Homo sapiens: one gene and its partners. The protein of the gene in region 3 purifies or fractionates together with the protein of the main gene of each other region. This does not show direct contact. Each region holds a gene or a part of one and is shown on either strand. Other genes may lie near its edges. The genes, in order: UFD1, ELMO1 and PTGS2.

What was found.
Region 1: the proteins of PTGS2 (region 3) and UFD1 purify together in Homo sapiens (affinity purification with western blotting; one study listed by BioGRID). This does not show direct contact.
Region 2: the proteins of PTGS2 (region 3) and ELMO1 purify together in Homo sapiens (affinity purification with western blotting; one study listed by BioGRID). This does not show direct contact.

What each region holds. Positions count from the first base shown.
Region 1 is NC_000022.11:19,452,197-19,455,245, forward strand, and holds part of UFD1 (ubiquitin recognition factor in ER-associated degradation protein 1), read right to left. Parts: intron 2,635-3,049; coding exon 2,553-2,634; intron 1-2,552. UniProt on the Homo sapiens protein: Essential component of the ubiquitin-dependent proteolytic pathway which degrades ubiquitin fusion proteins.
Region 2 is NC_000007.14:37,442,207-37,445,864, forward strand, and holds part of ELMO1 (engulfment and cell motility protein 1), read right to left. Parts: intron 1-3,658. UniProt on the Homo sapiens protein: Involved in cytoskeletal rearrangements required for phagocytosis of apoptotic cells and cell motility. Acts in association with DOCK1 and CRK. Was initially proposed to be required in complex with DOCK1 to activate Rac Rho small GTPases.
Region 3 is NC_000001.11:186,671,150-186,674,374, forward strand, and holds the end of PTGS2 (prostaglandin G/H synthase 2 precursor), read right to left. Parts: coding exon 3,204-3,225; 3' UTR 642-3,203; downstream 1-641. UniProt on the Homo sapiens protein: Dual cyclooxygenase and peroxidase in the biosynthesis pathway of prostanoids, a class of C20 oxylipins mainly derived from arachidonate ((5Z,8Z,11Z,14Z)-eicosatetraenoate, AA, C20:4(n-6)), with a particular role in the inflammatory response.

The DNA of each region.
Region 1 (3,049 bases), on a different chromosome or scaffold from region 3:
TGGTTTCCTCTGACACCCTTTTCCTTGGCTTGCAGATGGCTGCCTTCTTGCTGTGTCCTCACATGGCCCTTCCTATGTCCAAATTTCCTCTTCTTAAAAGGACACCAGATTGAATTATGGCCAACTCTAATGGTCTTATTTTAACTTAATTGCTTCTTTAAATGGCCCTATCTGAGTTACTGGGGGTTAGGGCTTCAACACAGAAACACTGGAGGGACACAATCCAGCTCATAAGAGTTGGTACAGAATTTTAGGTTGGAAAAAATTTCCCCTCAGAATTTTGAGTATATTGCTCCACTATCTTCTAGTTTCCTCTGTGTCCTGCTAAGATGATGTCCCTTTTTTTGGGAGACAGGGACTTACTGTTACCCAGGCTGGAGTGCAGTGGTGTGATCTCAGCTCACAGCAGCCTCCACCTCCCAGGCTCAAGTGATGCTCCCAACTCAGCATTAAAGTAGCTGGGACTATAGGTGCGTGCCACCATGCTTGGCTAATTTTTAAAATTTTCTGTAGAGACAGGGTCTCCCTATATTGCCCAGGCTGGTCTCAAACTCCTGGGCTCAGATGATCTTCCCGCATCAGCCTCCCAAAGTGTTGGGATTACAGGTGTGAGCCATGGCGCTTGGCTGATGATGTCCTTAATGCATGGTGATACCTCTGTTCTCTCTCTAGAAGCTTTAGGATCTTTCTTTGCCTCAAAGTGGGGCTATTTTCATTCATTTTGCTGGAACTCAGTGAGCCCTTCAAATCTGCAAAATTGTGCCCATCTTTGGGGAAACTATTTCCCTGATGATTTCTGCTCCTTTGGTTTCTGTGGCTGTTCTTCCCACAAATCCTCTATTATTTAGATGCTGGAATGGAAAGCTTTCTGACTGTGGCCTTCACTTCAGAGATAGTAGTCTAGAGACCTACTGGAGTCGAGCCTCCAGCCTTCTGGGATGGGGGAGGGAGGGTAATGCAGCTCTAACTGCTTAGTAACAGAATTCTGTCTTTAGTCCCTCATTTCTAGAGGTGCCTTTTGAGAATTCCACAATCTACACAGAACTGCTTCTAGGCTTTCTATGGTCTACTAAGGTACCTGGGGCTTCCAAAGCCTTGTAGTTGCCTCCTCTTCCACTGTCTTTCTTACCTCATGACCTTTAGCCACAGCCTTAGTGGGGCTGCAGGATGGAATAGAGCTAAATATGTCTTCAATCCCATCTTTAAACATATACTTCTTAAATACATATTTATGGTCAAACAGGCCTGCTGTGCCCACTGGCCTCCCCTGCCTTCTGTAAATTTGCAACAGTCAGGTCACAGTCAGCCTGGGGGACGTCCCATGCTAAGGTCTTAGGTCGGAGTCAGGCACTGGCTTTTAGTGAGAAAGGCAGCCTGTAGCTGGTGAAGCCTGGATGGTGCCTGAAGGAGGAGCTGGAGGGTGAGGTCTGACTGGCCACTATGTTTGCTCCTCTGAGCCTGAAAGGTCCCAATGCCCAATGCTGTTTCAACTTGAACATTGAGCCCAGAAGTGGTTGTGAGTAGGACCAGGTGTGCAAACTTCACAGTGGTCTCTGTCCCCAACCACCCCAAGTGCTAGAGAAAAGAGTTCAGTAATTGGGATGGCTCCCATGTAGCAGCTGGTCCTGAATGGGTGGCTCAGTACATCTGCCCTCTGCCCTGATCCTGGATCCTCAAGGGTCCAATCCTTTGAGAAAAGGAACCAGGAGAGCGATGGGTCTGAAGCGCTGGTGTTGTAGAAATCCTCATCACAAAGAGGTGACTGCGTTCCAGTTGCTGCCAGGCCTGGCCATATTCCCACAAAGTGCCCATGTCTACAGGATGCTCAGCCCTTGCCTTCCTCTGTCCCGCCACCACCCTGCTCAGCTAGAAGGTGCTGCCTATATTTGAAGTTCAAGGTCTCTGTTGGAAGACGAAGCCCACCCAGGGCACACAGTTCTGTGATAACAGAGCCTGGAGTCGGCTCTAGAGCAAGACAGAGCTCCTGACCCCCATGCTGCAAGTCTTCTGTTTCATACACCCTACACCAGCTCTACAGAAAAAAACAGGACACCAGGGAGCAGAGGGACCCTAGGAAAGGGAAAACATGACAGACACCCTCATGTGGTTTGGCTGCGTCCCCACCCAAATCTCATCTTGAATTACCACGTGTTGTGGGAGGGACCAGGTGGGAGGTAACTGAGTCGGTGGGAGGTAACTGAGTCATGAGGGCGGGTCTTTTCCGTGCTGTTATCATGATAGTGAATAAGTCTCATGAGATCTGATGGTTTTATAAGTAGGTGTTTCCCTGCACCAGCTTTTTCTCTGCCTGCTACCATCCATGTAAGATGTGACTTGCCCCCTGCCATGATTGTGAGGCCTCCCCAGCCATGTGAACTGTAAGTCCATTAAACCTCTTTCTTTTGTAAATTGCCCAGTCTCGGGTACATCTTTACCAGCAGCTTGGAAACAGACTAATGCACACCCCTACTCAGAATGCCAAGAACTTCAGTCATCACTAGCAAATAAATCTCCTCATTACCAACCAAGGAAATACAAGGAAATACACTCACCTCTTCAACCTTTTTGACAAGGGGACGTGAATTTCTGATGAAAGTTATCTTACCAAGTTTAAATTCATAATTGGGAATTCCTCTGTAAGAAGAGACAGAGACAGAGAAATGTTATTTCCAGGAAAAAAGGACTAAAATTCATTTTTGACAGTCAAGAGGAACGCAGAAAAGATGCTGCTGCACCCCACCTGGGCCCTTTGGTGCTTCCTGGCATCCTCCCAGGAGGGAAGCAGAAAGTAACTGACTTCTTGGTTTGGTATCAATATTGGGTATAGGGCCAGGGGCTTTAGGCTCTGTACCTGTCTATGGAGAGGGGTCATCTGAAGGATTGGGAAGCCCTCACTGTCACTGTCCTGAGCTTCACAGAACCCCCTGAGGTGGCTAGACTCTCACTCCAGTATTCTGATTTCACACACACAACAGACAACTGACACACCTCAGCCCTGCCCCTGCCATCATGGCCACCAGAGGAAGGGTCTGCTGTGGGTCCCCGGACC
Region 2 (3,658 bases), on a different chromosome or scaffold from region 3:
ATGTCAATAGCACTGAGGCTGACACTGCCTGAAATAATGGGTCAGTAAAATGGCCAACAGCCTACAAGTAGAAAAAGAACCGTACAAGTAGCCTCAGCATCGCCCAAAGGAGAAACCATCACGGTCAAAGGACTCCAGTCTCTGGTTTTCTTAGTTGGTATGAATCTATCAACAAGAGAATTAGCAAAAGTTATGAGGAGCTGGAAAACACTGTCAAGTATATTCCCCTTCCAACTGGTTCCTTCCCAGGTGGTTCCATGCTTTTGCCTTCACCATGACTCATCCACAGAGGAAAAATGTTGGCTAAAGAATAAACGCCCATTCTTCTTGGCAAATACTGTTCTCATTTTTTATTAATAAATTGCATTCTAGCTCATATGCTTCAATATCATGAGGTTGGCTGATGGACATACTGTCCCTGAGAGAAGAATCCATTGACTCTCAAAACTAAGGTCAACTTTAGAATGAGATACCCAAAGAGAGGGATTGACTCTGAAGAACTAGGACTCAGTGGCAGCATTGACATCCCTGGATACCATGGCAACCCAGGGCACATCCATCTGCAGGACATACAGGAGTGAAGAGCCTCTCTGGACACCACTGCAGCATAGCTCCACATGGCATCCTGGCCTCAGAGGCTGGCAAGTCCAGTGAACCAACAAAAGAAGGAACTAACCAGTGCAGACATCATGGTGCAGGAGAAAGAAACAACGCAGTAAAACGAGTCAGAAAAGTTGGGTTTAAGGCTCAGATGCACTCTCTAAGTATGCTTGTGACATTTCATTCCTCCAAGCCACATCTGTAAAATGGGATAACAATACTATTCTGACTGTTCTCCATCATTTCCAAAACAGCATCCCCAGAGGAAGGGTGTGTCAGGCCACAGAGAAAAATGTCGCATTGATCCTATGACTCCACCTCCACTGAGAGAATGCTTTATAGGGCTTACCTGATTTTCATTCCCTCAAACCACCATTCCCTATCCAGAGTACAACCCACTGAACACATCTCAGTCCTTAGTCCAGCAAGTTGTGCCTCTCCAGTGTTTTCTACTGAGGAAAGTTTTGTTTTCTACCTTAACTGTTAGAACTAAAACAGTCAAAACTGTAGCCTCAATTCCTAAAATTGAAGTTCCAATAATAATTCTGTTCAGATTCTGGAAATCAGTGTTTGTGGGGGCCCGGAACACTGAGAATCGTCTCCTTCTATTTATACATGTGACTAATTTCTCGACTCAGCACTATGCCAGTTTGTTACTGTAGTTAATTCTGTTTGATGAGCTAGCATTCCTTCTCCCACACGTATTCCTATCTGATACTTAACTGTTCACCCCACCTTAGGCCAATGACCAAATTCTGCTCGTACCGTACCTGCACTTATATTGTAACAGGTTAGAAAATACAGCACTAAGACACAAGTAGTTAATGTAATCAGGAATCATGATATGGCTTTGCAGGCTTTAGTTCTGGCTAATATAGATAAGTTCCAATTGTTAACACTCAAACAACCCAAATTATCCAGGGAAATAAGCATTGCAACCAGTGTGTGCATTGTACATGCAGGCTGGCTTTGCTGAACCTAAAAATGCTGTGCTGGCATACTGGAAGGCTTTCATGGCCACACACATGGTCCTGGGAGCCACACCCTGTGGAATGACTGGCCTTCATGATCCTTTTATTATGGACAGTGCAGAAGTTCTCAGACTCTTTTTTTAAAGAGATGGGGTCTTTTTCTGTCCCCCAACCTGGAGCACCGTGGTGAGATCACAGCTCACTGCAGCCTCAGACTCCTGGACTCAAGCCATTCTCTTGCCTCAGCCTACCAAGTAGCTGGGACTACAGGTGCATGCCATCATACCCAGCTAATTTTTTAACTTTTGAGAGATGTGGTCTCGCTATGTTGCCCAGGCTGAGTTGTCAGCCTTTGACTTTCTTCTTTGGATAGCCAATCCAAGCCCAGGTCAGCTAAAATGCTTCACCTAATCATGCATCCCAGCAGTGTGGCTGCCTCCAGAAGAGATTACAACTGTCTTTGTAATTAGAATCATTCATGTGGGGAACACTAGATGTAAAATATGAAAGGAGAAGTTGAGCAGAGTAAATTTCCAAAGACCTCAAAAGTTCTAAACTAAAACTTGGTGAGAAAAGGGGATAGTCTGTCGATTTTATTCTAAGTAAGGTTAAAGAGTTATTGCAAAGGGAGCTACTGCCTTTCTGCATCACTAAAGTGAAAAGCATGTCACTTGAGTTTCTAGTTCCTCCAAGATGGCAGCATGAGGGCCTAGCGCACTGGCAAGTTCTACAAATAGTGGCATTTTTTTTTTTGAGATGGAGTCTTGCTCTGTCGCCCAGGCTGGAGTGCAGTGGCGCAATCTCAGCTCACTGTAAGCTCTGCCTCCCGGGTTCACTCAATTCTCCTACCTCAGCCTCCAGAGCAGCTGGGACTACAGGCACCCACTACCACGCCCGGCTAATTTTTTTTGTATTTTCAATAGAGACGGGGTTTCACCGCCTTAGCCAGGATGGTCTGGATCTCCTGACCTCGCAATCCACCCGCCTCGGACTCCCAAAGTGCTGGGATTAGAGGCGTGAGCCACCGCGCCCGGCCAATAGTAGCATTTTGAAAAGTTAAGTCAATAGCCGACAGAACTGCATCTGGTTCAACATTTGGAAATAGCATCTCCTGCAGGGGGTTAAACCAACAGTATTTTGTTAAAAGGAGATAGCTAAGTATTTCTTGTAGCCCTCTAGAACGTCGTCATCAGAATCCCTGGCAAGTTGGTTAAAAATGTAGTTTTCCCCAGAATTATTGAAACAGGCTTTTTAAAATCGTTACCTACACTGAGCAATACTTTGACATTAAGACTGGGTGTCTGTTTTATGAAATGCTGTTTTCCACACCACTCTTCTCTTTCACATTTTAAACTGCTGGTCTTGGCCTACTAAAGTGATATCATGATCCGCTCATGGGTTACAGCCGTAAGCTTAAAAAGCACTTCTCTGGTTGACTAGAAGGAACCAGAACTAAAGTTGCACAATTAGTAGCAAACACTCCAGGCTTTGTGATGCAGAGAGGGTTTCTTAATCCACCACGTTTTCCAGATTCAACAGAATGTCTTATAAACCAAACTATCTACTTGGATGGTTTCAGGCACCAAAAAGTGGTTACAAGCTTGAGTTACAAACCTTAATTGTATCCACTGTCTTAGATCTGGAAGGGAAATGTTACCTCCATAGGAATGATCACCTTTAACCCTTGAGCATTAGGCAACCTGATGAAGTAAGCACAGTGTGTGATCAGGTGAGCTCCTTGCCTCACCCCCAGCCACATCCTTCAGCAAAGGCTTCAAAGCCCTTTCCCCACCCGCCCCACCCACTCACACCAAACACCCAAAGGGGTTAAATTACTTTGAAACACTCAAGAGTTAGCTTCTTTTCAATATAGTAATTTAGTAAATGTTCAAGACTTAGCTGCACCTGCAGAACACCTTAATGTTTTCTCACTTTTATTTTTCTTCTCCTAGGCATTTCTCATCTCCCCTGCATCTGCCACACAGCCTCCCTTACAGCCTCCTGTCTTCACTTCCATATTGTAGGAGAGCAGAATGGGACACAGTAGATGCCTCTGACTTCAATCCCCTTACAATCATGCCCTTCCT
Region 3 (3,225 bases):
TCAGTGAGACTGAGAGTTAGATGTTAGAGTGTAAGCAATAAAATAGGTGAGCTGGAAGATGCTTGGAATCAAGATTTTGAAAGTGGTGCTGTAATTAATCATAATGATATCAAGATATGTATGATTTCAGGAAATATGGTGGAAGAGGCCATCCCTGGAATGGAGAAGGCCAAAGAGGAGAGGCCAGGGAAGATGCTAAATATGTGGTCCATGTAGATATTGAAATTACCAAGATGTCAAGGATAGAGGTACAACAAAAGCCTATGAGCTTTTGCATCAATGATTTGCCCAACTTTGTATAATTTCCTCCTCTTTGAACTTCTTAACTTTGTGCCCCCTTCATAATATATGTCTTATTCTTTGCCTTATTGTGTATTTTTTTCTTCTTCTTCTAGACTAGGCAATGAAAATAAGCTTGTTTGCCATCTTCTGTAAAGATACACAAACTAGACATTTTCCAACACAGTGTCGCAGTGAATAAGGATTATGAGATTTAAATAGTGACTCTAGGAAGCCTCTATATAATTGAGGGCAAAACCATTTCATGAAGGGCCAGTCCTAGTTTTGAATAGGTAGGAGAATGCAAGATAATGGTTTAAGAGTAATGCTTCAGAGAAATCTTATGTCATATGACAAAGATGTATAGAAACAATCAAAGTTTATCTTCAGAAAAGATCTGTCAATTTTTAAATAGTACAAAAATAAACAGACATTTATTTCCAGACTTATCTTTTACATAAGTTAAATACACATTTGTCTGAGGCACTGAAACATTCGCATACACAACCCAAATTCCCAGGTTTTGTCAGCAGATCAATGTTAATAACAAATCAAGTTTTTTTTTTAAAAAAAACAGTGAACAGTGTTTTATACAAGCATATTGACTATTTCTTTCTTAACCTTAAACATTCTAAACGTAAAATTGTAAAGAAGATTCTCCTGAGTTATCTTTAATGATATTTATTTCATTTTCTCCCTCTTCCCAAAAGAAAATTTTTTTCAATTATTTATATAAATACTATTATCTGTAATCAGCGTTTGATTTAAAAATATTAAAACCCACAGTGCTTGACACAGAATATTTTCTCAATAAATTGTGGCTGAACAAATTAACGAAGCATCCACAGATCCCTCAAAACATTTTAAAAGGTCAGTCTTATGGCACATTCAGGCTAATGAGACAATATTCTTTGTGGGCTAGCACATAGGCCTATCCTAAGGACAAACATTCAACCTTAAATATCTCAATATGCCAATCAGATTTCTAAAAATTTATTCACAAATCTTAATACAATCATTTCTTTGGATTGTTTACATAATATTCAGAGAGGTAACCCCAAAGAAAATATACTGATTGTGACATAACAAAAAAAAATCAATGATTGTAGGCTTAAACACAGTTTATAACCATAGTGTCCTAATAAGACATAAATAATAATCTTCAATAAATTAAGTAATATACAGTACCATTAAATGTCAGTGACAATGAGATGTGGAAAAGAAGTATTATCGTCATTATTATTATTGCTGAGAACTACTTAGATATCATTTGGTTTTGTTTTTAAATAAGAAAGGGCATTAATTAGAATGGGAACGTAACTTTTTCCAGTCACAAACCCCGTACAGTTCTCTCTGAGGCACTAGCCTCTTTGCATCCATCTTGGTTACAGATAGCTAAAATTAGCTATAAATAAAATTCTCTGCTTTTCACTTAAAATAAGTGTATACTATTTTTAAAAGGGCCTTTTTTTTTCTCTTTTAATCTTCTTAAGAGGAGCTAAATAGCAGTCCTGAGCTGAGGTTTACCTGAAAACTTGCAAAAGTTCAGGTAAGAAAATATAGGCAGAGTCCAAAGAAAGTGAACTCTGATCTTAAAACTAGTAAAACAAAATAGGAGAAACGAAGTGATGAGAAGACTGTGTCTCTTAGCAAAATGGCTAAAAGAAGAAAAGAAAAGGAACAGCATGCAGGTAGCCAGGCTTGATTCCAATGCACCTACTGAATTGGCTTCAAGACTGAGATAAAATTAATGTGTGAAATGAATTTAAGCATTTTGAAGAGGTATTTTATGAGGTCATTGCTACTTTTGCAATGTGATATGGACTGCTAAATTAAACTGTACAACAGAAAATCTGAGAAAACATATCATTATTCAAGCACAGCTTGGTACTTCATTAACCTCATAGCAAAATCTGAGTACCAGGCCTGCAGTGCACAAGGATAAAAAAAAGTTTGCTTCAAAAGTTTAAACCTAAATTTGAACAATAATTTGGTTTTCTTCTTTGTTATTGCTTATTTTAAAGGTAGACCCTTTTGCTGATATAGATTTTACATGTTACCAGCCATATAAACAAATTCTGGAATATCTCAACAAAATATTCTTATTTTAAGATAACACTGCAGTGGCTCCACCACCTTAATAAATTTGGCATTTTGATTTAAAAGGAAGTTTTAACAGTCACACTAAAAAGGTTTATACTCTTGGTGAAAAAGGAACATCACTTATAAAATATTTTAACAAGCAATTGTAGTAAAATTTCTACTGATTTTACAGATTTAAATCCAAGACAGCTTCTTTTTGGTATATGTACAAGTTTAATAACTTTAAGAAATCAAACAAGCTTTTACAGGTGATTCTACCCTATGAATTTAGAAATTTCAAATTATTGTTTCATTGCTGATTTTAAAAAGTAGACATGAAATTACTGGTAATGTCTAATTTAAATATTCATTTAATAATGCACTGATACCTGTTTTTGTTTGATGACAGAAAAATAACCAAAAGTACTTTAAAATTTCAAACATTAGTTACTTCTAATGCATCATGGAAGATGCATTGGAAACATCGACAGTGTAAAAACTTTCAGCATTTTGCCATCTTGTGACAGTGTTTAAGTATTCAAACATCTTTACTTTCGTTCTTATAATATAAGTTGAAATTCAAGTAAAAAGACGTCAAAACTCATTTCTCTCTGGTTTATAAAACAGAATAAAAACTGTTTTCCAAACTTAACAGCAACAGCAAAATCTTTAGAGTAGTGACATAAAAGTCTTCACAAGTATGACTCCTTTCTCCGCAACAGGAGTACTGACTTCTGTTACAGAAGATGTTAAGTAACATAAGGAGTTTAATATAAATATTATTAAATAATTAAATTAATAGACATGGTTCATATAAATAAATAAATATGATCATTAGACTTCTACAGTTCAGTCGAACGTTCT